7 separate regions of the Homo sapiens genome follow, and regions 2, 3, 4, 5, 6 and 7 are each reported to be linked to region 1. Evidence: microRNA targets listed by miRTarBase, many of them from high-throughput screens and not tested one by one. Region 1 holds a microRNA gene; each other region holds the end of a gene's coding sequence.

Region 1 (4,080 bases):
GAGTGTAAAATTGCACTCTGCATAAGGTAGATGTTAATAAATGTCCTTTTACAAATAAACAAATAAGTAAAAGGCTCTGTAGTATTAAACATGGTTCATTCATGAGATTCAACCACTCATAAAACTTTTACAACCTACTTCACTGTTTTGAAAGGAATCTGTAAAGAATGACATGTATCCCTATAGGAATCTATAACAAACAATTTTGCATGATTAATAATTCGTTTTCTTACTGCTTAATAAGAGGGACTGCTAAACAATTACTCATGTTTAATTTACCATCCATTTTTGCAAATATTGCTTATAATTAGAAGTGTATAAGTATGTATTTCAAATTTATCAAGATACAGTGTAATTTATCAAGGTAACAACTTATGAATGGTAAAATGACCATTCTAATATATGAAAACAAAAAATATATTAAAGTTATTTACTTGAAAATCTCCATGGGTTGATCTTCTAAAAGAGCTAGTTTATTCATTTTAAAATCTGATTTTGAAAAGTACTTTTTTTTAGCTCTGTTGATGTATTATATTATTGAATTTTACTATTAAAATATATTTATTGATTTTAATATAGAAAATCTAAAAAAAGAAAAAGTCAAAACAAAATACTTTTAGCAATGAGAAGATGTTATTACCATTAAAACTAAAAGCTTGTGTTTAATACATTTAAATTTGCGTTTTCAGAAATAAAGTTTGCCTTTGATTAAATTACATATATATTTTATCAGGAGGTGAGAATTATGTCAGGACTAGTTTGGTTAAATTTCTACAATGAATTAAATATTACTGAGAAAAAGCGTTGTTAAAATGAGTATTCTGGTACTGAATAGCAGGAATGAGGTAGAAGACTTTGTAAACTGTGATTTTTGTCAATCTTTATTAATAGAAGACTCTTTGCTGGAAGTTAACCAAAGTGTCCCATTATCCCAGTGTGCAATAGATTAATAGAGTTTAAAATAAGCTCCCTGATATTATAGAAGGGAGTGGAGGGCTACATACTGCTTGCTATGTAAATAGAGGTTTAATTAACACTTAAAGTTTTGCATCTTCACAGGTTGCAAATGTTAATTAAATCTGTATTTACATGGCAAGAGATGCGGACGTAGATGCCTTTCTTTTAAGAGCCAACTAAGTTTGTCTGAAGTACAACTCTTCCAAAGTGTAGCAAATTTACATGAAGGAAAATTTCAAAGTTGGGAGAAATATTCAAGGTAATATAGTCTAACCTCTTACTCAGAAAACTAGCTTCTCCGTATGGTGTTTCAGAAACATGATGAACTGGCCTGTTATGGGTATTTCTGTTGATAAGGACTGTACTCCTTGGGACAAATTCCTCATTTTTTCCATATTTGATTGTTTAAAAATTATTCTGCAGCCGTTATCCCTGTTCTGCTCTCTGGAGCTATACCAAAAAAGGCAGCCTAATCCTTGCTCCAACCAAAAGCTCCTCAAACACATCAACTCACCATTCTGAGACTACCATGTTTTTCATGTCCTCTATCCCTAGATCATGATTCCAAGTCTTTTCTTCCCAGACTAAACACTCCTAGTTTCTTTAATTCATCATAAGATAATATTTTCATGTTCATCACCACTCTAATCAACTTCCTCTGGATGCATTCCAGCTTATCTCTTTAAAATGTGGTTTTCTAAAACTGAACACATCATGGCACAGTGTAACACTAAAATTATTTTCATTGAAGAAGACAGTATTTGTGTTAATTAACTTTTTTGCTGCCATGTTATAATACTAATTGATAAGAAGTTTGTAGTAATCTAAATCATCTTTTTAGATTACTGGGACTTAAAATACAGATAAATTCAATTCTTAAAATTCTATAATTATGCAATTGCTTTTTTCTATCTTCAGTGCAAGCTTTTATATGTATCCCTGTTATGCTTTATCATATTGATTTTGATTCAGAGTTCCTATGAGATCATTTTGAAGTGATTTACATTTCATTTACATTTACATTGTGTAGTCAGATGTTCTTATATAACTATGATCATTAGTATTTTAAGGGTTTATAAGAATCTTAACAAGGATAAATCTAAATATCTAAATATTTAAGAAATAATAAAATGTATATGTACCATCTGTAATCTCTTCACCATTAAACATTAAGTCAAGGTGTTTGAACACATACAATTGTTCAGTAGTTTCAAACTCAGTTAACGACAGTGTCATTCAGCCTACATTGCTCCTTATTTACAAGGACACCATGAGAGATTTTCCTTAAACACGTTGTAGAAGTCAGGATGCTAATTATAAATAGTTACGGGAAACCTAGAGAAAAAAATGTACATCAGGAAAAACCCTTAGACTTTTAGAAGTTGGACTGTCCTTAAATAAAGCATAGTCCACACCTATTACTTTACATATTAGAAAAAAAAAGTCAAATGGCACCCTTTAGGTAATAGCTGGTGGCATGACTATAACTAAAACCTAGATATTAACGCTATTTTGACTTTAAGTACAAGTCATACAGATATATATATATATAAACATAAATTACCTTTATTGGGCATCTTGAATTAGCATTCTTACTAGAAGTAATTACGATATTGAAACCACTGACTTTTTCTCCCTGCCTTATTAGAATTGGTTGTCTTTTCCTGTCTAATCCCCTTCTTTCCAAAATGTCTATACTAGGTCCTCACCATCACAAACTTCTCACTTTTGAAAGTCATTGCCTTTTTGATTTAGGAGGTCATTGCTTTGGGGTTTTTTGTTTGTTTGTTTGTTTTTTATGTTTTTCCTGAGATGGGTTCTCACCCTGTCACCCAGGCTGATCCTGGCTCACTGCATCCTCAGTCTTCCTGGGCTCAGGTGACCCTCCCACCTCAGCCTCCTGAGTAGGTGGGACTACAGGTGTATGCCACCACACTCAGCTAAGTTTTGTATTTTTTTGTAGAGTTGGGATTCCACCATGTTTCCCAAGCTGATCTCAAACTTCTGGATTCAAGCAATCCACCCGTCTAGGCCTCCCAAAGTGCTGGGATTACAGGTGTGAGCCACCAGACCTGGATTGTCATTACATTTGAAGGTCATTTTTATACCCCTCTACGGACCCCTTTGACAAATTAGTTACCTCTATTTCTATGCTCCTATATTGAGTTGTATTAACCAGTTTGGCAGAATGATTAAAATTTTGGTTCATGTACCTTTTTCCTCAAATAGGCCATGAGTTACTTACAGTCTTCTAAATATTTATATTCTATAATGACTAGAATATAGTAGTTTCTCAGGATCATTTTCTTATTTGGATTAATTGACCTTTGGCACAACTTTGAAGGTCTTAAGTTGTTTTGCAGTAGTGAAAGAAAGCAAATATTACCATTTAATCCATGACTTGATGAACAGCAGCTTCTTTTTACAAAGCGGCTGGCCAGGGCTAAATAACAGGAAAAACATTAGCTCTCATTTTGGGAAATTGATCAATAGCAATAACGCTTTCTGTGCCAGTCACTGTGCGAAGTCATTTACCTGTTACCTTATTTAAATTGCAAAACAACTCTATTAGAACCCCATTTTAAATATGGAGAAAGTAGGGCTCAGAAAGGTAAATAATACTTAACAGTGGCTTTGTTGGCACCGATAATTAATTAATGAAATTCTAAAATAATTCATTCTATGTATTTCAGAACAAGCACATTTTTCTTAAAAAATAAAAATAATATAGTATACATGATGATTTATTTCTCTTTTATTCAATCTACTCTCCTATTGTCTAACTATTTTTTTCTTAGCTTTATAGCAGAAATAAGACTGACTTATCTGAACTTTCTACCCTTACATTATTTTGCAGGAGCTAATCTGGACAGCAAAGCATCTTCTCTTTACTATGTCAAAATCCCATTTTCCTTTCATCTGTCTAGTATCAATACTGATTTTATACTATAGAAGATTTGAAAAACTGACTTAATTTTTAGACCCCCTCTAAAAGGGCTCTTGTATTGCTGCCAATTATAGAGAGGAGAAAAAAAAAACACCAAAACTTGCATTTTGAAAAATAATTTGAAAATAGTACCTTATATATTTCAAATATTTCTCAAATATGAAATCTCTGATTCA
Region 2 (4,080 bases), not on the chromosome of region 1:
AGTGATGCAGTGCTTCCAATTTGGTTCCTCTATATCTAAATCCAAAAGAATGAAAACTCTGTAGGGGATGACATCAGGAAAGCAGCAATGCTGCCATAAGGTTTTTTTCCTTTTACTCCTGTTTGTTAGGACTCGGCTGCTACAGTAAATCACTGAGCATTTCTAGAAATTTCATTACTTTTTAAATTTTATTCAGATTTTGGCTTTCACTATCTGGAAATTGTTTTTTTTTTTTTTTTTTTTTTTGTCTGAGATGGAGTCTCACTCTGTCGCCCAGGCTGTAGTGCGGTGACGTGATCTTGGCTCACTGCAAGTTCCACCTCCTGGGTTCACGCCATTCTCCTGCCTCAGCCTCCCGAGTAGCTGGGACTACAGGTGCCCGCCACCATGCCCAGCTAATTTTTTTTTTGTATTTTTGGTAGAGACGGGGTTTCACCGTGTTAGCCAGGATGGTCTCCATCTCCTGACCTCGTGATCCACCCGCTTCGGCCTCCCAAAGTGCTGGGATTACAGGCGTGAGCCACCGTGCCCGGCCTATCTGGAAATTTCTTAACATGAAGCCTTTTCCCTCCCCAACATAGAAGAGCAGCATTGGACCTTGCTTAAATTTGATACTCTTCTACCCCCTGGACGATTGGACCATTCCATGTGTATCATTCCATGGCCAGTGACGTGTGCTTCTGAGAAAGAAGATTCCAACTCTCTCACTCTGAACCATGAAGCTGAGAAAGAGGATTCAGCTGACAAAGTAATGAGCCACAGTGGTGACTCACATGAGGAAAGCCAGACTGCTACACTGCTCTGTTTGGTGTTTGGTGGGATGAATACAGAAGGGGAAATCTATGACGATTGTATTGTGACTGTAGTGGACTAATAAAACCCACATTTTTATTACCTGTCAGTTACTTTCAGAATAGTTAAGTAAAACATTAGCTGTTTTATACCTCCAAAATATCTTCTGCATTATATATCTGTTTTTCTCCTACTTTGGTAGGTGAAGAAACTAATGCAAATAATTCTTATGTGCACTAAACCTTGCTATATTGCCTCTCAGAGCTCTTGGGAATGACTTTCAGTGACTGGTTTGCAAACTGTGGTAGATAGATAAGTTTTGCCCAATGCAAAAACCTCCACTGCATTAACATAAAAGGCTTTGGGCCAGGCTTGGTGGCTCACGCCTGTAATCCCAACACTTTGGGAGGCTGAGGAGGTGGATCACCTGAGGTCGGGAGTTCAAAACCAGCCTTACTACCATGAAGAAACTCCGTCTCTACTAAAAACACAAAATTAGCCGGGTGTGCTGGCCCATGCCTGTAATCCCAGATACTCAGGAGGCTGAGACAGGAGAATCGCTTGAACCCGGGAGGCGGAGGTTGCGGTGAGCTGAGATCACACCATTGCACTCCAGCCTGGGTGACAAGAACGAAACTCTGTCTCAAAAAAAAAAAAAATATATATATATATACATATATACACACATATATATGTATACATATATAGTATATTTATATGTATACATATATATGTATACATATTTATATATACATGTATTTATATATGTATACATAAACACATATATATGTATACATATATATATATATAAAAGGTTTTGCCAACAATACAAACCTAGGTAGGTGTGATTTGTGTATTAAATGCTAATCACAAAGTTGCAATATGGTTAGGGTTAAAAAAGAAGTTGCAGAATTATAATTGGTAAACAACAAACTATAGACATCAGACACATAGTTGAAGTCTATCTTTTTAATATTCAGTAACAGCTCCTCAGAAAGAGTTACAGACTAGGTGGTCCACGGTAGTGAGAGCCTTTGAGGTAAGGGAAGACTAGCCCTAGTTGCTAACTACCATTTAACCCTATTGCCCCAGGGTACACAGCACTGTAGGTCATCTTTAATGGCTGTATTGGGCTTGGCCTGAGACCAGTATTCTGCTCAGGGTCTGCCCAAATGCTTTTCGGGCAGTGCAGCTGAGGCCTAGGTCTAATTAAGAGTTTGGTGTTGGGATCCAGTTCTACTAGCCCTAGAGAATTAACCTTTCAGCCAGTTGCCCATCTATAAAATACCTATCCTTGGGCAGTATTGGATTCTTTTTTTTTTTTTTGAGGTGGAGTCTCACTCTTGTCGCCAGGCTGGAGTGCCGGGCTGGAGTACAGTGGTGTGATCTCGGCTCACTGCAACCTCTGCCTCCCGGGTTCGAGTGATTCTCCTGCCTCAGCCTTCAGCTTGCACTACCACGCCCAGCTAATTTTTGTATTTTCAGTAGAGATGGAGTTTCACCATGTTGGCAAAGATGGTCTCTATCTCTTGACCTTGTGATCCACCCGCCTTGGCCTCCCAAAGTGCTAGGATTACAATATTGGATTTTATGTTAGCACCAGCCTGTCCTTTATTGATCATACCATTTACCTGGACTCTTTTCTTCAGGAACACAATCTAAGTAATCCTAAACCAGTTTTGACACAAACCATTGCCTTTAACAACCCATTCATAGTGAGGGGATTTAGTGTAGTTTCAATGTCACCATCCAAGATCCCACCCCAGTACCACTAATGAGAAATTTCAGGGATGGAGATTCTGACACAGCTAGGGTTCACAATATACCTTTACATCCTAAAGTTACAAATGAAATCCAAGTGTATAAAGTTAATACCAGTGATCACTCACTCCCCATCATTTCTCAGAGAATCCAAGCAGCTATAAAAGCATCATTAGTAATAATTTTAAAAAAAGCCACCAGAAAGGCAGTTTTAGAAAGATAAGGGGAAATAGGAAACCAAGTATGTTCAAGAAAACCCCACTCTTGGGCACTGTGAAATGCCCCTTGCCTGAGTAAAGATGTGGATTAACTTCTCTCCCCTTTTCTTAGATTAATGCAAAAGCCGAGCATGGTGGTAACAAGCCTGTGGTCTCAATTAGCTGGGAGACTGAGGTGGAAGGATCACTTGGGCCCAGGAGGGTTAAAAAAAAAAAAAAAAATCCCTGGAAGCATTAAATAGAAGTGTTTCCTTATCCCAACATACCAAATACTCCCTCCCCTCACCCCACACACGAGTATCTAGTCTTAAATTTCCTAAAATAAGTAATTGATCTAATTAGAAGCTTCTCACAAACATTAGACCAGTGTAAATAACAAACATTTATTGGTGTCACTTATGGTAGAAAAAACTTCCTACACCAGATGCACATGACCCAGTTGTTAAATAGAACATTTTGAAGGTGAACACACACCCTAACCCAGGTTTTTTACCCGCTTTTTAAGATGGCCAATTCTTCTTCTCCCCCCCACCCAAAGACATGTGAGCAACTGCTAATGAAAAGCAGTAAACAGCCGCTTAGGCTATAGCAGTTTCAACTCCACTCTGAGGTGAAGATTCCAATTACATTCGAGACTTAAGTTCTTTCAATTTTTTCCTAACAAAAGTTCCTGAGTCCAGTATTTACAATATTACAGCACTAGCAGATCAGTGTCTACAACTCATCTTTTTCTGCTGTATCCTCTTCACCAGTTGGGGGAGGGCCTGCACTTCCATAGAGTTTGCTGATAATTGGTTGAACAATTTCTTCCAGTTCCTTCTTCTTAGCTTTGAAGTCTTCAATGTCAGCATCTTGGTGGCTTTCCAGCCATTCAATCTTTTCTTCTACAGCTTTTTCCATGGTCTCCTTATCTTCAGAGGAAAGTTTACCTCCCAGCTTTTCTTTATCTCCAATCTGATTCTTTAGAGAATAGGCATAGCTTTCCAACTCATTTCTAGTATCAATGCGCTCCTTGAGCTTTTTGTCTTCCTCAGCAAACTTCTCAGCATCATTAACCATCCTTTCGATTTCTTCAGGTGTCAGGCGATTCTGGTCATTGGTGATTGTGATCTTATTTTTGTTCCCTGTACCCTTGTCTTCAGCTGTCACTCGAAGAATACCATTCACATCTATCTCAAAGGTGACTTCAATCTGTGGGACCCCACGAGGAGCAGGAGGAATTCCAGTCAGATCAAATGTACCCAGAAGATGATTGTCTTTTGTCAGGGGTCTTTCACCTAGAAGTTACATACAGAAAAACTTGTTAGTT
Region 3 (4,080 bases), not on the chromosome of region 1:
AATATGTTTCAAAAACAAAACAACAACAACAACAAAAAATGTTCTATTGAGTTGAAGTATGTCCCCGCGCCCACCGCCGTTTTTTTTTGAGATGGAGTCTCATTCTGTCGCCCAGGCTGGAGTGCAGCAGCGCAATCTCAGCTCACCACAACCTCTGCCTCCTGAATTCAAGTGATTCTCCTGCCTCAGCCTCCCAAGTAGCTGGGAATACAGGCATGAGCCACCATGCCCAGCTAATTTTTATATTTTTAGTAGAGATGGGGTTTCGCCATGTTGGCCAGGCTGGTCTTGAACTCCTGACCTCAGGTGTTCGGCCTGCCTCAACCTCCCAAAGTGTTGGGATTACAGGCATGAGCCACGGCACCCGGCCTGAAGTCCCATTATTTACTAAATGTTTCCTCTGCTGTTGGAACTATCTTGTAGGCTATTTTCAGATTTATATTATAGATGATTCTATGAGGAACATCATCTTCATATCACTTCTTGCCACTGTAGAATAAGTTCCTTAGGATAGATACCCATAAATAGAGCTTGTACCTCATTCTGACCCTTGTTGCATATAGTAGATATAAACAAGTTTATTCCATTTGAGCACCTTATATGGTGAGGCGGCTATGTAGAAAATAGTGAGTGTGTAGGCTCTGAAGACAGATAGGAATATAAGGGCCATCCCAGAAATGCTAGTGTTTGGAAGAATTGAAATTGTACTTTCCCATTTATGGCTTCTTAACTTTTGTTTCAGTGATTGACATAAAACTGGAAAAGCCTCAGGAGCAACCAGTCAGTGAAGGAGGCTGTTCCTGCTAATCTCCCATGTCATCTTCAACCTTCTTCAGAAGCTCACTGCTTTGGCCCCCTTACTCTTTCATTGACTGCAGTGTGAATATTGGCTTGAACCTTTTCCCTTCAGTAATAACGTATTGCAATTCATCATTGCTGCCTGTCTCGTGGAGATGATCTATTAGCTTCACAAGCACAACAAAAGTCAGTGTCTTCATTATTTATATTTTACAAAAAGCCAAAATATTTCAGCATATTCCAGTGATAACTTTAAAAATTAGATACATTTTCTTAACATTTTTTTCTTTTTTAATGTTATGATAATGTACTTCAAAATGATGGAAATCTCAACAGTATGAGTATGGCTTGGTTAACGAGCGGTATGTTCACAGCCTACTTTATCTCTCCTTGCTTTTCTCACCTCTCACTTACCCCCATTCCCTATTACCCTATTCTTACCTAGCCTCCCCCGACTTCCTCAAAACAAACAAGAGATGGCAAAGCAGCAGTTCTACCAAGCCCATTGGAATTATCCTTTAATTTTACAGATACCACTTGCTGTAGGCTACGGACCAAGATGTCCAAAATTATTCTTGAGCACTGATATAAATTACGGTCTTCTTTGAGGTCAAAATTCAGCCATCATGGTAGGCAGTGCTTGAATGAGAAAAGGCTCCTGGTGCATCTTCAAAATGAGTCCTAAAGAACATACTGAGTACTTAGAAGTAGAAGAACATAAGATGTATTTCTGACTAAAACAAATGGCTCTTTCACATGTGCTTTATTAGACTCTGGGAGAGAAAATTAACCAAGTGCTTCAGAACAGGTTTTTAGTATTTAATTCTTCACGGTAAGAAAATGAAGTTCTAATGAACTGTTTCTCCCAAGGTTTTAAAATTGTCAAGAGTTATTCTGTTTGTTTAAAAAATAAGAAACCTCTTTAAGCAATAGATTTTGCTTGGGTTTTCTTTTTTAAAAACATAATACTGTGCAGGCAAGGCACTGTAAAAGTTTTAATTCCTTCCAGAAGAACCAGTGGAAGAATTTAAATTTGGCGCTACGATCAAAACTACTGAATTAGTAGAAATAATGATGTCTAAAGCTTACCAACAAAAGAACCCTCAGCAGAATAACAAAAACTTTGCTCAGGACATTTGAGGTCAAATTGAAGACGGAAACCGGAAACCGTTTTCTTGTAAGCCCCTAGAGGCAGATCAGGTAAAGCATACATAGTAGAGGGAAAGGAGAGAATGGAAATAAAACTCAATATTATGCAGATTTATGCCTTATTTTTTAGCATTTTTTAAGGTTGGGTCTTTCAGGCTGGTTTTGGTTTGTATTAGATCTGTATAGTTTAATTAACTGGTGATTTAGTTTTATATTTAAGCTACAATTAATCTTTTTTCTTTGGTGATATTTATTTCTTTGCCTTTTTTTTTTTTAACAACTTTCAATCTTCAGATGTTTCGTTGAATCTATTTAGAGCTTCACCATGGCAATATGTATTTCCCTTAAAACACTGCAAACAAATATACTAGGAGTGTGCCCTTTTAATCTTTACTAGTTATTGTGAGATTGCTGTGTAAGCTAATAAACACATTTGTAAATACATTGTTTGCAGGACGAAAACTTCTGAGTTACAGCTCAGGAAAAGCCTGCTGAATTTATGTTGTAAGCATTACTTAACACAGTATAAAGATGAAAAGACAACAAAAATATCTTCATACTTCCTCATCCCCTCATTGGAACAAAACCTTAAACTGGGAGAACCTTAGTCCCCTCTCTTTCCTCTTCCTCCTCCACTTCCCACTTATTGTCACCTTGTAATATTCAGAGAGCACTTGGATTATGGATCTGAATAGAGAAATGCTTACAGATAATCATTAGCCCACATACCAGTAACTTATACTTAAAGATGGGATGGAGTTGTAAAGTGCTTTTATAATACAATATAATTGTTAAAGGCAAGGGTTGACTCTTTGTTTTATTTTGACATGGCATGTCCTGAAATAAATATTGATTCAATATGGCAGATGGGTCATATTCTTTATTTGGAAGAAGTTGTGACTTCTGACATGGGTGTGATTGTCTTCCTACACTGTTGCATTTGATTCTTTTTATGTATTTTTAAGAAAGTAACCAGTTATACTGCTTTTAATATTGATTGGTCTTTTTATTTGGCTTGGAGTTCTTCAAAGCATTGAAGTGTGTTCATAGTCCAGGTTTTTTTTTTAATAAACACAATTTTGCTGCCAAAAATATATAAATAAAACACGAAAGAAAACAATTATTGACCTGGTTTCCCATTCCTGCCAAGATGGTGAATTAGCATTTACTTCTCCCTCTCTGGGAAGACCTTTAAAGCAGACATGGACAGAATCCAGAAAAATAACAACAACAAATGTGAGGAACTCCTAGGGAGTCAAAGACTCTTTTTTTGATGGGGGTATTGTTGGGGGGTGGGGGAGAGGGGCTGCAACTTGAAAGATACATCCCCTGGTGGAGGCAGTAATAGGACATATTAAGAAAAGCATCTTAAGTTCTGCTTTTGCGTCCTCACTCCTAACTATACCTTTGCCTTGGGACAGGAGCCAGCAAACTGTGGCCCTCCCACCAAATGCAGCCTGGAACCAGTTTTAAAAATTAAGTTTTATTGGAACTCAGCCATACTTTCCCACTATAATGGCAGAGCTTAATAGCTGCCACAGACCTTATGGCCCTAAAACCCAAAAAACTGTTTACTATCTGGCCCTTTACAGAGAAAAGGGCAACCCCTGCCTTGGGACAACCATAGCTGAACCCCTTACTGTAAAATGAAGGCCACAGGCCAGAATACTAGTGCAGGTGTCTGCAAGAGTAATATTAAGGCAGTACAAAAGCACTAATAAGCCGATGGAAATAAAGGCAAGGCCCTGAAATAAGTTGTGGCTTTGGGGGATGATACTGATACTGAATGGGAGTGATTACATGTGGGCTTATAGTTCCTAGAACTCTTTGCCCCAAAGTTTGTCCCCTCCTCTCCTTGACAGTCTTGTCCCTTGTGCCTTCCAGACTAGTAGCCTATACCCTGAGGGGAATTTGAACTCACACAGCAATATAGTTGAATACCTAAAAACTGCCTCAAAAGTAAAAGTAAATATCTAAAGCAGAAATACTTTGGGAAAGAACGAATAATTTAAGGATGACATGATAAATATTAAGGAGATAAGATATGAAACAATTTGGAATCATAAATTAAGTGTGAAAAGTTTTTAATTGTTGAAATGAGGAACACAGCCAGGTGCAGTGTTTCATGCCTGT
Region 4 (4,080 bases), not on the chromosome of region 1:
GAGCCTGGAGGTGTTCCGGCATTCCGTGAGGGCCCTGCTGCAGAGAGTCAGCCCGGAGCCTCCCCCGGCCCCACGCCTCACCTACGAGTACTCCTGGTCCCTGGGCTGCGGCGTGGGGGCCGGCCTGATCCTGCTGTTGGGGGCCGGCTGCTTTCTGCTGCTCACACTGCCTTCCTGGCCCTGGGGGTCCCTCTGTCCCAAGCGGGGGCACCGGGCCACCTAGAGCCACGCGTGAGACTTCTCTAAGCAACCACCGAGCCCTTTGACCTTCTCCATTGTACCCCCAAGATCTTTTTGCCCCATCTCCTAGAGAAACTGTGTTCTCCCTGCTCGGGGGCCCATGTTTTTTTACACGCCTGCCTCCTGTCCCCTTATCCTTTCTCCCTCTGTAAATACGTTTTTCTCTGTGGCTGTATGTGGGTTGCTTGGGGGTGGGATGGGAAGAGGCTCTTTGCAAACGAGGGTCCCCAGAGAAGACTGGCGGGGACCTGATGGGGTAGCTGGGGTGTGGGGTTGGGGGATGAGGTCAGGGGGTCTTGGGTGGGAGTTGGGGGCCCCTTCATTTCCCAGGTCTGGATCGATTCACTTGCCGGGAGAGACTTTTTACAACTCATCTGCAGCTCCGGGTGCGGTTGGGGGAGATAGCGAAGGGTCTGGCCTCGCTGTGATCTGATTTGGGATTAAAGGTTTGGAAATTTAACAACTTTGCTTTGGAGTCTATTTGTGATGTGATCGTGCATTCTGGGGTAAAGAAAAGTGACCCCATATTCCCTCCAGAAACATACCCTCCAGAAACACTTTTAAGCCCAGAAGTCACATGAAAACGAACCCATACACAATGGTTGAGAGTGTGGAAAACACAATATATTTTTTATTTTTATTTTTATTTTGAGACGGAGTCTTGCTCTGTCTCCCAGGCTGGAGTGTAGTGCTGCAATCTTGGCTCACCGCAACCTCCGCCTCCTGGGCTCAAGTGATTCTCCTGCCTCAGCCTCGCAAGTAGCTGCGTTTACAGGCACGAGCCACCATGCCCAGCTAATTTTTGTATTTTTTTTTTTTTTTTAGAAGAGACGGGGTTTTACCATGTTAACCAGGCTGGTCTCGAACTCCTGATCTCAAGTGATCCACCTGTCTCAGCCTCCCAAAGTGCTGGGATTACAGGCGTGAGCCACCGTACCCCACCCAGATTTCCCCTTTACACATGACTCCTGTCATACGTGATTAGGATTTACCCCCAATGACCTTATTTTAACTTGATTATCTCTGTAAAGACCGTATCTCCAAATGAGGTCACATTCTTAGGTACTGGGGGTTAGGGTCCAACATATATATATATATATACATTTTGTAGGGGAGAACATTCAACCATTAACAGTGTATATATTCTAAATTGTGTTTTCTGGTCGGGTGTGGCGGCTCACGCCTGTAATCCCAGCACTTTGGGATGCCAAGGCGGGTGGATCACCTGAGGTCAGGAGTTCAAGACCAGCCTGGCCAACACGGTGAACCCCCGTCTCTACTAAAAATACAAAAATTAGCTGGGTGTGGTGGCAGGCACCTGTAATCCCAGCTACTCGGGAGGCTGAGTCAGGAGAATTGCTTGAACCTGGGAGTTGGAGGTTGCAGTGAGCCGGGATCTCGCCACTGCACTCCAGCCTGGGTGACAGAGCAAGACTCCGTCTCAAAAAAAAAAAAAAAAAAAAAAAAAATCAAAAAGGTGGGGGGAAGGGGGATTGGTTCAGGAAAGCCTTCCGAAGAAGATGACGAACTTGAGTCTTCAAGGTGAGTAAGAATCAGAGAAAGTGGAGAACGTCACGGGCGTTCCAGCTGGGTGGGAGAGCCTGGACAGAAACAAGAGGAAAAACATGATGAACCTGTGAGTGAGGAAATGTGAACGCTGGTGTTCAGAGTGAGACACAGGAAACGTGAGAGGGTTGGGGTGGGCTGTCTTATGAACAAGGTGGAGAGACTCAGATGCTCAACAGAACAGCTTGGCCTTTACCCTGAGGGTACTGAGGAGCCATGGGAGCTTGCTGAGCAGAGACACACTGGCATCAGGTCAAGGGGTTGAAACAAGGTTTCTTATTCTTGAAGTCACTAAATTGCAGACCCGGAAGACAGACTAGTGGTTGCCAGGTGTTAAGAAAAGGGTGAGTCTTGGCCCCACGCGACGGCTCATGCCTGTAACTCCAGCACCTTGGGAGGTCGAGGCGGGTGGATCACCTGAGGTCAGGAGTTCGAGATCTGCCTGGCCAACATGGTGAAACCCTGTCTCTACTAAAAACAAACAAACAAACAAAACAAATCAACAACAACAAAACATACAAAAATTAGCTGGGTGTGGTGGCTCACATCTGTAATCCCAGCACCTTCGGAAATGCCTGTTCTAATTTAGGTCCATGGGCACAGGCCCTAGGGTAGAGCCCTTGCCAGAGACCCTGCCCTTCTCTACCCAGCAGTTCTCTGCCCCCCTCCCATATCAAAATGCTTTTTCTGCATCTATTGAGATGATCATGTGATTTTATTTTTATTTTTATTTTGCAGTCTCACTCTGTCGCCCAGGCTGGAGGGCAGTGGTGCGATCTCGGCTCACGGCAACCTCCGCCTCCCGGGTTCAAGCAATTCTTGTGCCTCAGCCACCCCAGTACCTGGGATTACAGGTGTGCGCCACCAGACCCAGCTAATTTTTGTATTTTTAGCACAGATGGGGTGTCACCACGTTGGCCTGGCTGGTCTTGAACGCCTGACCTCAAGTGATCGTCCCACCTCCGCCTCCCAAAGTGCTGGGGTTACAGGCGTGAGCCACCGCGCCCAGCTGACCATGCGATTTTTGTTTCTAATTCTGCATTCTTCCATTCAACAAGCAGAAGTGCCCCGCAGTGCCTGGGCACCTGGGAGCCAGGCTGGTGTGAAAGCCCAGCTCCCCGACCTATGGCTGGGGCAACAGCTTCACCTCTCTCTGTCTTCGTTCCTTCATCCCTAAAGACGGTGCGTGAGCTCAATCCTGTACCTACTCCCAGGAGTCACCGTCGGGAGTAAACGCCATCATGAGCCCTGCAAAGCTCCCAGGAGACCGCCTGGCACGTGGTCGCAACTCGATCTGCCTTTGCTGTTAGTTTTTCTCAAGTGGCACTTACAGAGTAAACAGGGACCCCCGACGACGAGCTGACAGCCTGCTGATGGAAACAGATACTAATCACATCACTGAAGTAATGAGCGTGCAATTATAAACCAAGTTAAGTGCTAGGAGACAAGAGAGTCCACAATTTTTTTTTTGTTGTTTGACTTTGTGCCCAGCCAGGTCAGGGAAGCCTCAAGAGACATCTGCCATGGGGGTGGCGGAGATAGTTGGTCTTGGGGGAATGGCCCTTCCTTCCTTCCTTCCTTCCTTCCTTCCTTCCTTCCTTCCTTCCTTCCTTCCTTCCTTCCTTCTTTTCTTTCTTCCTCTTTCTTTCTTTCTTCTCTCTCTCTCTCTCTTTCTTTCTTTCCTTCTTTCTTTTTCTTTTTTTTTTTTTGAGCCGAAGTCTCGCTCTGTCACCCAGGCTGGAGCTCGGTGGTGCAATCTCGGCTCACTGCAAGCTCCACCTCCCAGGTTCACGCCATTCTCCTGCCTCAGCCTCCCGAGTAGCTGGGACTACAGGCGCCCGCCACCAAGCCTGGCTAATTTTTTTGTATTTTTTTTTAGTACAGACGGGGTTTCACCTTGTTAGCCAGGATGGTCTCGATCTCCTGACCTCATGATCCACCCGCCTCAGTCTCCCAAACTGCTGGAATTACAGGCGCGAGCCACTGCGTCTGGCCTCTCTCTCTTCCTCCCTCCCTCCCTTCCTTTCTTCCTTTTTCTTTCTTTCTTTCTTTTTTCTTCTTTCTTTCTTTCTTTGTTTCTTTCTCTTTCTCTTTCTCTCTTTCTCTCTCTCTTTCTTTCTTTCTCTCTTTCTTTCTTTCTTTTCAAGATGGAGTCTCACTCTGTCCCCCAGGCTGGAGTGCAATGGCACAATCATGGCTCACTGCAGCCTCGACTTTCCAGGTTCAAGCGATTCTCGTGCTTCAGTCCCCCAAATCCCTGGGACTACAGGCACA
Region 5 (4,080 bases), not on the chromosome of region 1:
AAAATGACATTCTGCCTCTTTCTAAAGGTGGTAAAATCAGAATAGAGAATGTCTTTAATGTGCATAGACTTTCTAATGTACTTTAAACTCTTAAAGTACATTAAATTGGGTTTAAAATAATGGGTTTTCCCTTTAGCTTTCTTTACACTGTCTCATCACTGTCTTTTTACCAGAAAATATTCAACTTCTTGGCTTTGATTTCCTCTCTCCTGACCTCTTAGCTTGGATACATTTTGTACCATCAAGTCCCACACCTTCCCATTCATACAGACTCCACTGTGTGCCTTGTTCTGCAGCGAGGCCAGCAATGCTCAGGAATTGTTTCTGTTTGGGTCTGTAGGGATCGCCTGCTCCCACAGTGGATTCCATTGTTAGCTGAGTGTCCTGCCATCACTCGAATGTATGAAGAGAGCGCTCTCCTGCGAGACCGCATGACTGTCAACTCCCTTATCCGAATTCTGCAGACCATTCAGGACTTCACCATAGTCCTAGAAGGATCACTCATCAAAGGAGTGGATGTGTAACCCAACTGGCTAGAAACTCTCAGTCCAAACCTTGCTCCTTCCCCAACTAGGGGACCGATTTGGACTTGTCTGACAGTAGTGAGTCACTGCAGGGGCAGCCAAACATATGCCCCATTTGGAACAATCCTCACTCTACAGACAAGGCAAAATGTTGTATTGTAGTTCATTTGAACCTGGAATTTAGTATAAAATAGAGTATTTTCATGTGTTAGATGTGTGTAAATATGCTATCTTCTTTAAGAAATTATATTACTCTAATAAGATGCTTTTCTTAGATTGAATATTCCTGTGACTTAAAATAAGTAGCTTAAAAATGTTGGGGGTTGGGGGGAAGAGTGGTGCTAGCCAGGAAGAAGCCAGTAAACATGTAAATATAGTGCAACCCAGTCGGGCTTTTTTTTTTCTCCAGGTATCACAAAGAAACCCAGAATGCATTGTTATGTAGTAGCCATCCATCTTGGAGTCTGATCCTTTGTATTGTGGATGCACACAGCTTTACCTACTGTACTGGTAGTCTTCACTTCTATCTTTTAAGTTACAAACTGTTTTATATATTTGAATCGCTAGTCACTTTTCCAGTCTTTTGGAAAAAAATTTCAGTCCGCACAAGATGATATAATTGGAGTATTTTAAACACTAGACCCCAGGAGCTTGGCTGAACTGGAAAGAGAACATACAAAGCTCTGAGAAATGTGTTCAATTGTGGGATTATAACTTCTTTACACTTCGGAAAGATTAGCCTAGACTAACTTCATTCTTGGCATTTTTATTCTTGTTATTTGAGGTACTTTGGGAAGATGTGAATTTCAGTGTTAGATTCATAGTGATAAGAACTGCAAACAGCAATTTGATTCTGTACTTTTAATTTGGCCATCTAAACTGTGCAGTGGTCTACCTCTTAAGGATAACCATGAGCCCTGTCTTTGTTAGGGTCTAATCACCCACCTCTCCAGGGCCCATCCCCCCTCGGGAAATGGAAGGAATGTCTAAGGAGGAGGAGGGCTGTGTGTGGCTTGGAATGTTTTTGTGAAAGCATTTGTTGACCATGATAATGCAAATAACAGAAGGAGAGAGAGAATGAACCCTTTCTGGGTGTTTCAGGGCAAGCTTTACGTTCCTTTGTAGGAAGGGGAGTAATAATGTAAAACAACTGACCCAGAGAAGCTAAAAGCCACTGGCAGCACAGGCTGACAAAATGGAAGCAAAGCAAGAGGTGGCAACAATTTTGAAAGACCAAAAGTTGTGAGTAACTTTCCAGTTTGATAGTTTATAAAGAAGTTAAGTAAATGTAGTATTGGCTAGTTACTGTAAGTCCTCATCTTCTGGTAGGTCCTGTAACTCTAATTAGGCATTTGTACATTTTTAGCAGCAAAATTGCCTCAGCAGAGCTCCCAGTTTTATTCCCAGTTGTGGCTGAAAAGCAAAGCCATGGCATCAGTATCCTTGTGCAATCGGAGGTTGCTGGGCTTTCACCACCTGTGTTGTTAACCTTATTTCCTGGAGGAAGAAACAGATGAAACAAGTGCCTAACTCCCTTTATCAAACACAGCCAAGGACAGCCTCTTTTAACATGTGACTTCATACTTGAGGAAAAGGAGAGTTGACAGCTGTATTTAAAAACCCATGGAGCCGGGTGCGGTGGCTCACGCCTATGATCCCAGCACTTTGGGAGGCCGAGGCAGGCGGATCACAAGGTCAGGAGATTGAGACCCTCCTGGCTAACACCGTGAAACCCCGTCTCTACTAAAAATACAAAAAATTAGCCGGGCGTGGTGGCGGGTGCCTGTACAGGAGGCTGAGGCAGGAGAATGGCGTGAACCCGCGAGGCGGAGCTTGCAGTAAGCTGAGATCGCGCCACTGCCCTCCAGCCTGGGCAACAGAGCAAGACTCCATCTCAAAAAATAAATAGATAAAAATAAAAACCCATGGAAATGGTTTAAGAAAATGGTTCTGGGTACACCAGAAATTTGTTTGCCTGAAGCTAAAGTGTGTCTACAATGGTACAGCTCTTCCAGGGACATGGGAAGTTTATCGTGGGAGATATCCAGAACCTGTTTTACACTGGGCTCCTACTGTGTTTGGTGATCAGAAACTATAGAGGGGTCCAACCCAGGATTTCATGTTTGTATCTTCATAAGGCCATGCTCCTGACAGGTCTAGGCAACCTGGGGGATGACTTAGGTTAATGTGCTAGGATTGACACACCTCATCCAGCCTTCTTACTTTGTGGATGGGAACACTTAAGGAATAGAGAGATTAAATCTTACACTTACCCCACAGCTGGTTACTGACAACACAAGCTCTAGAATTCATGTTTGTTTGTTTGTTTTATTTCACCAGGCTGCATGAGACTGACCTTCCGGCATTCTTACTAATAGTCTTTCTATTATACTATTGGATCTTTATTCATCCACCTATACAAGTAGGAAATAAGGATGAATATTCATTTAGAAGAATTAATATTCATATTAACACATTGCTCTCAGATTATTGGGAATTAACATCTTGTAAAAACTGGGAGCAGGCCAGGTACGGTGGCTAACGCCTGTAATCCTGACACTTTGGGAGTCTGAGGCGGGTGGTTCATCTGAGGTCAGTCGGGAGTTCAAGACCAGACTGGCCAACATGGTGAAACCCCGTCTCTACTAAAAAAAAAAAATAGACAAAAATTAGCGGGGGGGTGGTGGCAGGGCCTGTAATTCCAGCTACTCAGGAGGCTGAAGCAGGAGAATCGTTTAAACACAGGAGGTGGAGGTTGCAGTGAGCCGAGATTGTGCCACTGCACTCCAACCTGGGTGACAAGAGCGAGACTCCGTCTCAAAAAAAAAAAAAGAAAAAAACTGCAGCCAAAGTTGGATTTGCGGCCTATGAATAAAACCATTACTTTAAAAAGTAATACCCCCAAAAAAGTTACACCTGAAGTTTCATCTTCATGCCTTTGTGTAATATTACTATAATGGTGAAATGATGATTTAAAAAAAACACATCAGAACTGACACATCCTCTTGGATGATGGGTCCTTCAGTCACCTTGTGAGCCCATGTACTTATTCCGTTGATACAGCCTGTGCTATAAACATGTGGGGCCCTCCTTGTGTGAGCTGCTTGAATGGCCAGTACCCCCATTCTTTTGAATATTCCCAATGGCAGTCAATCTTGGCCTTTAAGAATAAATTTAAATATTTGGAAATAGTCCTTAGGATCCAAGTTTGATCAATGAAAAGGATGCTTAAGCTGAGTTTGGGGTCACATAAGAAGTGCAGTTATAAAGAAATAAGACATGTTGGGCATGGCAGTACACACCTGTAGTCCCAGCTGCTTGGGAAGCCAAGGCAGGAGGATCACTTCAACCCAGGAGTTTGAGTCCAGCCTGGGTAACATAGGGAAACCCCATCTCAAAAAAACAAAACAAAGGACTTAGTTTTTATGTGGCTCATAAGTGTCTCTAAGTTATACCAAAAGTTTGAGCACAACAGTAGTAGCAGAATGCTTAGAATAAATGCTTGACTTTTAAGCTGACTTTTGGAAGGACCATACCCACATAGAGGCATCTTTTC
Region 6 (4,080 bases), not on the chromosome of region 1:
CCCAGAGTGCTGAGATTACAGGTGTGAGCCACCACGACCAGCCCCTTCATGGCCATTTTAAGGGTCTCAACCTTTCATGCCATTACCATGGCAATTAAATTTCAACATTGAGTTTTGGGTGGGACATTCAACCCATAGCATTTGTGGACTCTCAATTCTCTTCCCACTGATCTGTCTCCATCCCTGTGTTTTTCCTCCTGGTTTTGTTTGTTTTCGACAGGGTCTCTGTCACCCAGGCTGCAATATAGTGGTGCAATCACGGCTGACTGCAGCCTCAAACTCCTGGGCTCAAGCAATCCTCCCAGCTCACCCTCCCAAGTGGCTGGGACTACAGATGTGTGGCACATGCCTAGCTAGAATCATCTCTAGATTAGTCATAATACCTAATACAATGTAAATGCTATCCAAATAGTTGTATATTAACATTTGTATTTTTAAAATTGTTGTATATTTTAAACACTTTCCATCCAGGGTTCGTTGATAAATGGATGCAGAGCCCATGGATACAGAGGGCCAACTGTATCATAAAGACAACACCTTTAAATGTGAAATATATGTGCAAACAGGGAAAACAGAGAAAAAGATGGGGTACATCATAATATAAAGGGCAGATTCATTTAGACATTTAAGTATCTAATTCCTCCAAAAAGGCTAAAAGATACAGTGATGCAGTGCCATTTAATGAGTTTTTTAAGGTTTCAAAATCAAGCTCAAATGCTGTATATTATTGACATTCACCATTATTCAAGAAAACCTTTAATAATATTCTTTATATTATAATGTGATCAAAGAATAAAAAAATTTTCATGAAGGGCTGGTTTACAAAATAGAACTCTGTCTAGGGTCTGAGCCATTTTTCTCATACCCGTCCCATTCTCTCTCTGTAACAGCAGTGGGAGGAGTGACAGAGCTCGCAGGTTAAGACAGACACGCAGGTGTTGGTATCTAATGCACTGAACTGTGGAAGTTATGGGAAGTTGTTTTCTCTTTTTAAAAATAAAATTAGCTGGGCATGGTGACTCATACCTGTAATGTAATGGCAGCACTTGAACAGGCCATGGAGAATCACTTCACCCCAGGAGTTTGGGACTAATCTGGGCAATATACGGAGACCCCATCGCTACAATTTTTTTTTTTTAATTGGCACAGCATAGTGGTGCGTGCCTGTAGTCCCAGCTACTTGGGAGGCTGAGGTCGGAGGACTGCTTGAGCCCAGTAAGCAGAGGAGATTGCAGTGAGCCAAGATCCTGCCATGGTATTCTGGCCTGGGCAACAGAGCAAGATGGGAAAAAAAAAAAAAAAGATATTATCAAAAATTTAATATTTAATGCACACGTTTCCCATGGAAATATGCAGGAGAGGAAAACTGACATTCCAAAATCAGCCTAACTGAAAAAGACCAATTATATGAAGCCTGTGCATGTATGAACAAAGAAAAAGTTAAAGTTTTCTAAGCTCATTCTGCAAAATGTTAGAAATACGAAGACAGAGATCATATAGTGCAGCGGTCCCCAACCTTTTTGGTACCAGGGACCTGTTTCATGGAAGACAATTTTTCCACGGACGGTTTGTGGGGGTAGAAGAATGGGGATGGGATGTTTTCAGGATGAAACTGTTCCACCTCAGATCATCAGGCGTTACATTCTCATAAGAAGCGCACAACCTGGATTCCTCACATGCACAGTTCCCAATAGGGTTCGCGCTCCTATGAGAACTAATGCCACCGCTGATCTGGCAGGAGGTGGAGCTCAGGTGGCAATGCTCGCTCACCCGCCACTCACCTCCTGCCATGCAGCTGGGGGGAGCTGGGGACCCCGATATAGTGTGTATGCCATGTTAAAATAATTAAAACAGATTTGGATTGTGCTGTCCTTTTAAATTTTAATAAAATAGATTAATTTCATATTACATAGAGAGCAAGTCCATCCATTCATCCGTGATAAAATTTTAGAAATATTTTCTATAAAATGTTTAGTATTTAATTGGAAATGAATCCAGTATAACATGACTTCCACAGATACAGCATTCCCATCCTCACTCCCATTCCTATTTTGAGAAATTTTAAAAATACAGAAAAGTACAAAAAATAAGACAAGATATCCCTATACCACAATCCAGAATCAATCAGTATCTTCTTATATTTACTTGAAGTCTTTTGAAAGAGAAGTGGATGTTTATATAAAAAGCTGAAGTCCCCTTTAACCAATACCCATCCCACCTCCCACACTCATTATTTTCCCTTCTCCACTCTTCACAGGTGACCACTATCAAGAGTTTGGTCTGTATCCTTCCAATCCGTTTCAAAAACATGTACATACATATATGCATCCATTACCAATAGATAGTACTGAGTTTTATGAGGAAACTTTTAATTCAAATTTACAAAAAAGTCATTGTACTATCTGTATCATTCTGCAACTTGATCCCCCCTCAACAATTCTGGGATCTTTCTGTTAATACATGTGGATTTCATTTGTTGCATTTTACAGATATATAGTATTACATAAGAATTTCCCATATTGTTCGTGATGGGCTTTCTCAGTTGTTTCTAATTTTTGGCTACTACAAATCAAGCCACAGTAAATATCCTAGTGCGTATTTCCTGAGCATTCATACTCATAAGTAGAACCGCTAAGTATTTCTCAAATTGTTCCAAGGAATGTTTCCCTATTCCCAAGGTCATATGCATTTTAGTACATAGCTTTTCCATATTTCTGTTTTTAATCTCTGGATTCACTTTTGTGTATAGTTCATGGTCTATTTTTCCCCCTTGGAGAACAAACTACCTCCACTTAAAAAAAATAGTTCCATTATTTCCTCATTTCCTGATGCCACTTGTATCATATTCCAAATTCTAATAAATGCATAGGTCTTTTTTTGAAATCTCTTCTGCTCTGCTCAATCAATACCACAGGAGTCTTAATATTAGTTGTAGATGACCATGTCATCTATTTTTGTCTGTTCCTTTCCAATATTTACAACTTAATTTTTCTTGTTACTGGCGAAGATCTCCAGATCTATGGTGGTAGCAATAAAAAACAGGCCTCCATTTTCTGTTCCCACTTTTAGTGAAAATGTGCCTAAACTTTCACCATTATCTCTGCTGCAGGTTTCTCTGTTGGACACAGGGTTTTAATCATATGCATGTCTTTCTCTTCAGTACAAATTTTCTGGTGTCCCTTAAGTTTTTAGTACTTGTTAAAGTTAACCTCATTCGTGGTGCTTTGCTTCAGAAGGATTATTTCTGGGGCATGATGAGGTGCAAATTTCTAATGAAAGCTTTCCCACTTTCAAGGCTTTCATGGGGTTTTTAGTGAGTATGAATTTTCTGGTGTCTAATGTGGTGTGACTTCTGGCTGAAAGCTTTCCCACATTCACTGCACTGATAAGGCTTCTTACCTGTGTGTATTCTCAAATGCAGAGCAAGGGTTGAGAACTGAGAGAAAGCTTTCCCACATTCATTACAACCATAGGGCTTCTCCCCTGTATGGCTTCTCACATGCACAGTGAGAGATGAGCTCTGAGAGAAGGCTTTTCCACAAACATTGCATTCGTAAGGTTTATCACCTGAATGAATCCTCACATGTACAATAAGTGATGTTCGCTGAGAGAAGGCTTTTCCACATTCGTTACATTCATAGGGTTTCTCTCCAGTGTGAATGTTCTGATGTTTTATGAGGTACTTCTTCTGGCCAAAGGCTGTTCCACATTCACTACATTTAAAAGGCTTCTCTCCAATATGGATTTTCTCATGCTCAGTAAGGTTGGATTTGCCACTGAAGGTTTTTCCACACTCCTTACATACAAAGGGCTTCTCTCCTGTGTGAGTTCTCTGGTGTCTGATGAGGTTTGACTTCTGAATGAAAGCTTTCCCGCAATCTTTACACTCAAAAGGTTTTTCTCCAGTGTGAATTTTCTGGTGCGTAAGGAGGTTTTCCTTCTGGCTAAATGATTTTCCACATTCATTACATTCGAAAAGCTTCTCGCCAGTATGGGTGTTCTGATGTTTAATGACATACTGCTTTTGGCTAAAGGCTTTTCCACACTCGTTACATTCAAAAGGTTTCTCTCTCGTGTGAA
Region 7 (4,000 bases), not on the chromosome of region 1:
TAAACAAGGAACACTTGGATTGGCAAGAAAGATTTCACATAATTTCCATTTTACTATGCCACAATAAGAACATAAGGCTAGGCAGTTTGTAATTGCTTTGTGAATACACAGTGAAAGAGTCTATTACCAAAAATGCCCTACAAGACATACAGTATGAAGGACAGTTCAGAGTTTATTTTATTTTTTAATTTTCATTCTTCATTGAAACACTTTGTCTTTTCAAATCTTTTCCTCAGAGAGACCCTTCGAGAAGTGCTCCATTTACTGAGAAGCACAGGTAACACCCAAGTAGAATACATGATCCGGATCATGAAGAAATGGGCCAAAGAAAACAGAGTGTCCATCTAAAATAGCGCCAGCGTCCTAGGAACCAGCTTCTACTTTGACATAAAACTGGAAATCATTTTCACTCCAGTTTAATCTGTGATACAGGGCTCTGTTTTATTGACATTTTCCTTCCTTGCTCTTTAAGCCTCAAGGTCAGAGACTGACTTGCTGAGACTTAGTCTCCTGGCTGAACAGAGTGCCATAGTCTGTGACCCTGTATGATCCTAGTAGCAATAAGATTTTGGACTTATCTGGTGCCTTTCTTCCAAAAATGCTCAGAGTACTTTTATGCAATTTACTGACTTTAAGGAAAACAGTATAACTTTTTTTTGTTAGCATTTTATGGCATTGTCTCCTGGCTGCAATAACAAACATCTTTGATGTTCAAGAATCAGCATCATTGTATCATTTAACTTTAAGGCGTCTCTGTACGTTATCCCATTTTATTGGGGAATTCCATAAAGGGTTTTATAACGTCATCTCTGAATCTTGGGAGAATAACTAGCTATGTGTTTCTAAGAAAGGCAGTAAGCTACTTTATCAAACTGTCCAGTCATTAATAGGATAGATTTATGGGATTACTCTTTCAGTAATTAAATTGTTGATGATAATAACATGTTACAGCGCAGTAAGATGAGTATTGCAATGTTTTAAAAGGTGAGTACTATGAAAAAAATTGTAGTACCTCTAAAGGTATTCAAGAAACAATGTTTATGAATCTCACTAGTCCATTATAGTTTGGTACCATAATTATTTTAGGTAACAAAGCAGGTTAGGTTTTTGTTAATGTATCTTGCTTAACAAACATCAGTTTTTGTTGTTGTTGTTGTTGTTGTTGTTGTTGTTGTTTTTGAGACGGAGTCTCGCTCTGTCGCCCAGGCTGGAGTACAGTGGTGCGATCTCGGCTCACTGCAAGCTCCACCTCCTGGGTTCACGCCAGTCTCCTGCCTCAGCCTTCTGAGTAGCTGGGACTACAGGCACCCGCCACCGCGCCCGGCTAATTTTTTGTATTTTTAGTAGAGACGGGGTTTCACCGTGTTAGCCACAATGCTCTCCATCTCCTGACCTCGTGATCCGCCCGTCTCAGCCTCCCAAAGTGCTGGGATTACAGGCATGAGCCACCGCGCCTGGCCCAAACATCAGTTTTGAAAGTAGGGCTACAGTGATTTATATGTATTGTGGGCACTTATTAATGTAACGATAATAAAACATGAATCGTATAAAGTCCTTTGAGGGAATCTCCTAATGGCTAGGCTCTCTGTCGTAAGTCATATTCCAGCCCCAGGCTTCTGAGCTCTTATAACATACAACTGAGCATTCTTAAGCTCACAACCTATTTCCAGAAAAGAGACCCACATCTTTCTATGTTTTATACTACCTTTGTTTTTACACCATATAGTTTTTTTCTATTAGTTTAAGGTACCTAGTGTTACAGGTCTAGAAAGTGCAGAGCCATCCCTACCTAGAAGAGAATAGATGGGAAGAGAACTGAAAGAAAGAATTCCTCAAGCACTGAAGTCAGGAAAATCCCCGTAGGCACTGTATTAGTTGTTCCATTTATCCCAGCACTCCACTTGTGGATGAAGGAGTTGTATAGAAAGGAGATGAGAAAATGGCAGGAGTGGAAGCAGCCAAGAAGAGATCGATGACTGAAGATCTCCTTCACCTTCAGGACTGTCTCAAGGGGTTATTTCACCTCTACTCATGAGGATGGCCAGTTTTTCTGTCTTTTATCTTTAGACCCATATATAATCAGTTCAGAGCACAAATCAAAATAAACTGGCCTAAATAACTGAATTCTAGGAAGCAAAGCTACATCTTTTTTCATATGCCAAAGCTTCTGTTTCCTCATGTTGTTCCTACTTTTTAAATAATAAATGGCTCTCAGCATCTTAGGAACTAGATGGGTCCCATCTGGGTAGAACCTGCTATAATTTTTAGAATCACTCTTGTAATTCTTACCTCACTTAAAATATTAGGAAACACAGTAATAGAAAAGACAGGGAGAACTCGTCTGCAGGTTTTGGCAGTGAAATTTGTCTTCCAGTGAATTGCTATTATTTTCAAATTGCCTATAGTCAAAAAGCTTTTCCATTGATGGAGACTTACTTTCAAATGAGCTTGTGTTGAATTCAGCACTCTAGATTCTCTCTGACATTTTCCTGTCTTTTGGGAAAAAAAAGCAGATATTCCAAAAATGGCAGAAATCTAATTTTTGTAAACTTTTTCATCTATAGGATTGAGCCAAAAAACATACATACTATTTTAAAGAAAGGTACCATCTAATTCTTTTATTAAAGATAGCTACTTCTGAAATGTCTTAACAGAGTTTCAAGATTGCAAAGTAGTATTGCATAGCTGGTTTTCTTACATGTGATGATGGAGGAGAGAGGAAGACCCAGACTTAGGCATGTAGTGAAATATGTACAGTTTCTGGCATCAGTGTACTATTTATAGTCTATAGCATACATTACTTGCAAATGGGAAAAGTATTTTATAATTATTTTTGTACCTCAAAATAATTATTATATTCTACTGTATTATATTCAAATTAAAGTTTATTATTTGATTCTTAGTATGATATTCTGTTGAGTGTGATGAGGGTGGGACCTAAGTATGTCATGTGCCTTCTACCCTTTCTTTCCTAGCCCTAGAATGAAAGGAGAGAAAGTTTTGGGCCCCATAAGTTACTCTTTAGAAGAGAGAAAAGTACATATTCCCCAAGAAGCCCTTTCCACTAAGAGGCTGGTAGTTCCTGCTGAATCATACTAGGCTTGGCTCTTTGCTGAATTACAGCCCATTCAGAAGTTATATGACCAGTGCATAGTGTAGTACCTCACACATAGAAAGCTCTCACATACTTGTTGACTGAATAATTAAACATACAGTAACTGGTAGGGCAAGTGACTTGTGAAGTCTAACCTCATATATTCAGTTCCCATTGAATTATTATTTTATTGTGTGCTAAGCATATGCCAGGTACTTGGGCTGCAAAGATAAATAATGCACAGGCCTGACTCTCAAGGAACTCTAACAGAAGTATACACAACTAAACACAACAACGTGATTGATATCATCAGTGGGAATAAAGTATTGAGCAATAAAAGAAGGCAATGGAATGTTTGTATCCGTGTAAATGAGATGCCCCCTGCCTCATTTGGGAGAAGCAATCAGAATGGATCCCAAAGCTCAACAGCTAGCAAGATGCCCACAGCTCTGCCATGTGTGCCACACACATCACATGCATCCAAGTAGACGGAAGCCAAGGGACTGCTTTCCTCCTCTGTGGCTTAGTGCACTTTCAGAAAGGTGCTAGCAAACAGGCATGATATCACAATAGTTACATCTACTTTCTAATGGCAAAAATGAAGTAGTGATTTACTAGATCCTGTATTGAGAACATCTGTGTCTTAGATGAATAGTTGTCTTACGACTCTTTTCTTCATCCTATAAAATACTTCTAGGCTGGGCATAGTGGCTTATGCCTGTAATCCCAACACTTTGGGAGGCTGAGGTGGGAGGATCACTTGATGCCAGGAGTTCGAGACCAGCCTGAGCAACATACCAAAACCCTGTCTCTACAAAAAAAAAAAAAAATTTTAATTAGCCAGGTGTAGTGGCACATTCCTGTCATCCCAGTTACTTGGGAGGCTGAGAAGGGAGGATCACCTGA

The links. Region 1 holds the annotated microRNA hsa-miR-2053 (GUGUUAAUUAAACCUCUAUUUAC, at 1,015-1,037, opposite strand). A microRNA usually pairs through its seed, bases 2 to 8, with sites in the 3' UTR of a target mRNA and lowers its output. Matches are read on the target gene's strand: a 7mer-m8 pairs with bases 2 to 8, a 7mer-A1 pairs with bases 2 to 7 and ends in A, and an 8mer does both.
Region 2: the mRNA of HSPA5 is a reported target of hsa-miR-2053. Seed matches in the 3' UTR shown: 7mer-A1 at 3,211-3,217.
Region 3: the mRNA of RAB6A is a reported target of hsa-miR-2053. Seed matches in the 3' UTR shown: 7mer-A1 at 2,221-2,227.
Region 4: miRTarBase lists CACNG6 as a target of hsa-miR-2053. The part of its 3' UTR that is shown has no 7-base or 8-base seed match.
Region 5: the mRNA of DENND5B is a reported target of hsa-miR-2053. Seed matches in the 3' UTR shown: 7mer-m8 at 2,992-2,998 and 7mer-m8 at 3,021-3,027.
Region 6: miRTarBase lists ZNF146 as a target of hsa-miR-2053. Seed matches in the 3' UTR shown: 7mer-A1 at 3,196-3,202 and 7mer-m8 at 2,452-2,458.
Region 7: miRTarBase lists IFT56 as a target of hsa-miR-2053. Seed matches in the 3' UTR shown: 7mer-A1 at 1,125-1,131.

The regions. Positions count from the first base shown.
Region 1 is chr8:112,640,510-112,644,589 of GRCh38, reverse strand. It overlaps MIR2053 (microRNA 2053), which reads right to left and starts at 1,097; the gene lies at 1,007-1,097. All of the region lies in intron 20 of CSMD3 (CUB and Sushi multiple domains 3), which reads left to right.
Region 2 is chr9:125,233,107-125,237,186 of GRCh38, forward strand. HSPA5 (heat shock protein family A (Hsp70) member 5) reads right to left here. Exons shown (of 8, transcript NM_005347.5): 8 at 1,747-4,048. The coding sequence ends at 3,486. It overlaps RABEPK (Rab9 effector protein with kelch motifs), which reads left to right. Exons shown (of 8, transcript NM_005833.4): 8 at 582-1,055. The coding sequence ends at 874. Among named protein-coding and RNA genes, the nearest start is that of HSPA5, 6.2 kb to the right of the region's middle.
Region 3 is chr11:73,674,625-73,678,704 of GRCh38, reverse strand. RAB6A (RAB6A, member RAS oncogene family) reads left to right here. Exons shown (of 8, transcript NM_198896.2): 8 at 743-3,067. The coding sequence ends at 807. Among named protein-coding and RNA genes, the nearest start is that of PLEKHB1, 30 kb to the right of the region's middle.
Region 4 is chr19:54,011,967-54,016,046 of GRCh38, forward strand. CACNG6 (calcium voltage-gated channel auxiliary subunit gamma 6) reads left to right here. Exons shown (of 4, transcript NM_145814.2): 4 at 1-700. The coding sequence ends at 223. Among named protein-coding and RNA genes, the nearest start is that of CACNG6, 22 kb to the left of the region's middle.
Region 5 is chr12:31,384,047-31,388,126 of GRCh38, reverse strand. It overlaps DENND5B (DENN domain containing 5B), which reads left to right. Exons shown (of 21, transcript NM_144973.4): 21 at 341-4,080. The coding sequence ends at 524. Among named protein-coding and RNA genes, the nearest start is that of LINC02387, 17 kb to the right of the region's middle.
Region 6 is chr19:36,236,550-36,240,629 of GRCh38, reverse strand. ZNF146 (zinc finger protein 146) reads right to left here. Exons shown (of 4, transcript NM_007145.3): 4 at 1,862-4,080. The coding sequence ends at 3,311. It also overlaps a transcript of ZNF565 not described here. Among named protein-coding and RNA genes, the nearest start is that of ZNF146, 23 kb to the right of the region's middle. RefSeq lists a silencer at 4,056-4,080.
Region 7 is chr7:139,189,085-139,193,084 of GRCh38, forward strand. It overlaps IFT56 (intraflagellar transport 56), which reads left to right. Exons shown (of 18, transcript NM_024926.4): 18 at 237-2,902. The coding sequence ends at 348. Among named protein-coding and RNA genes, the nearest start is that of UBN2, 40 kb to the right of the region's middle.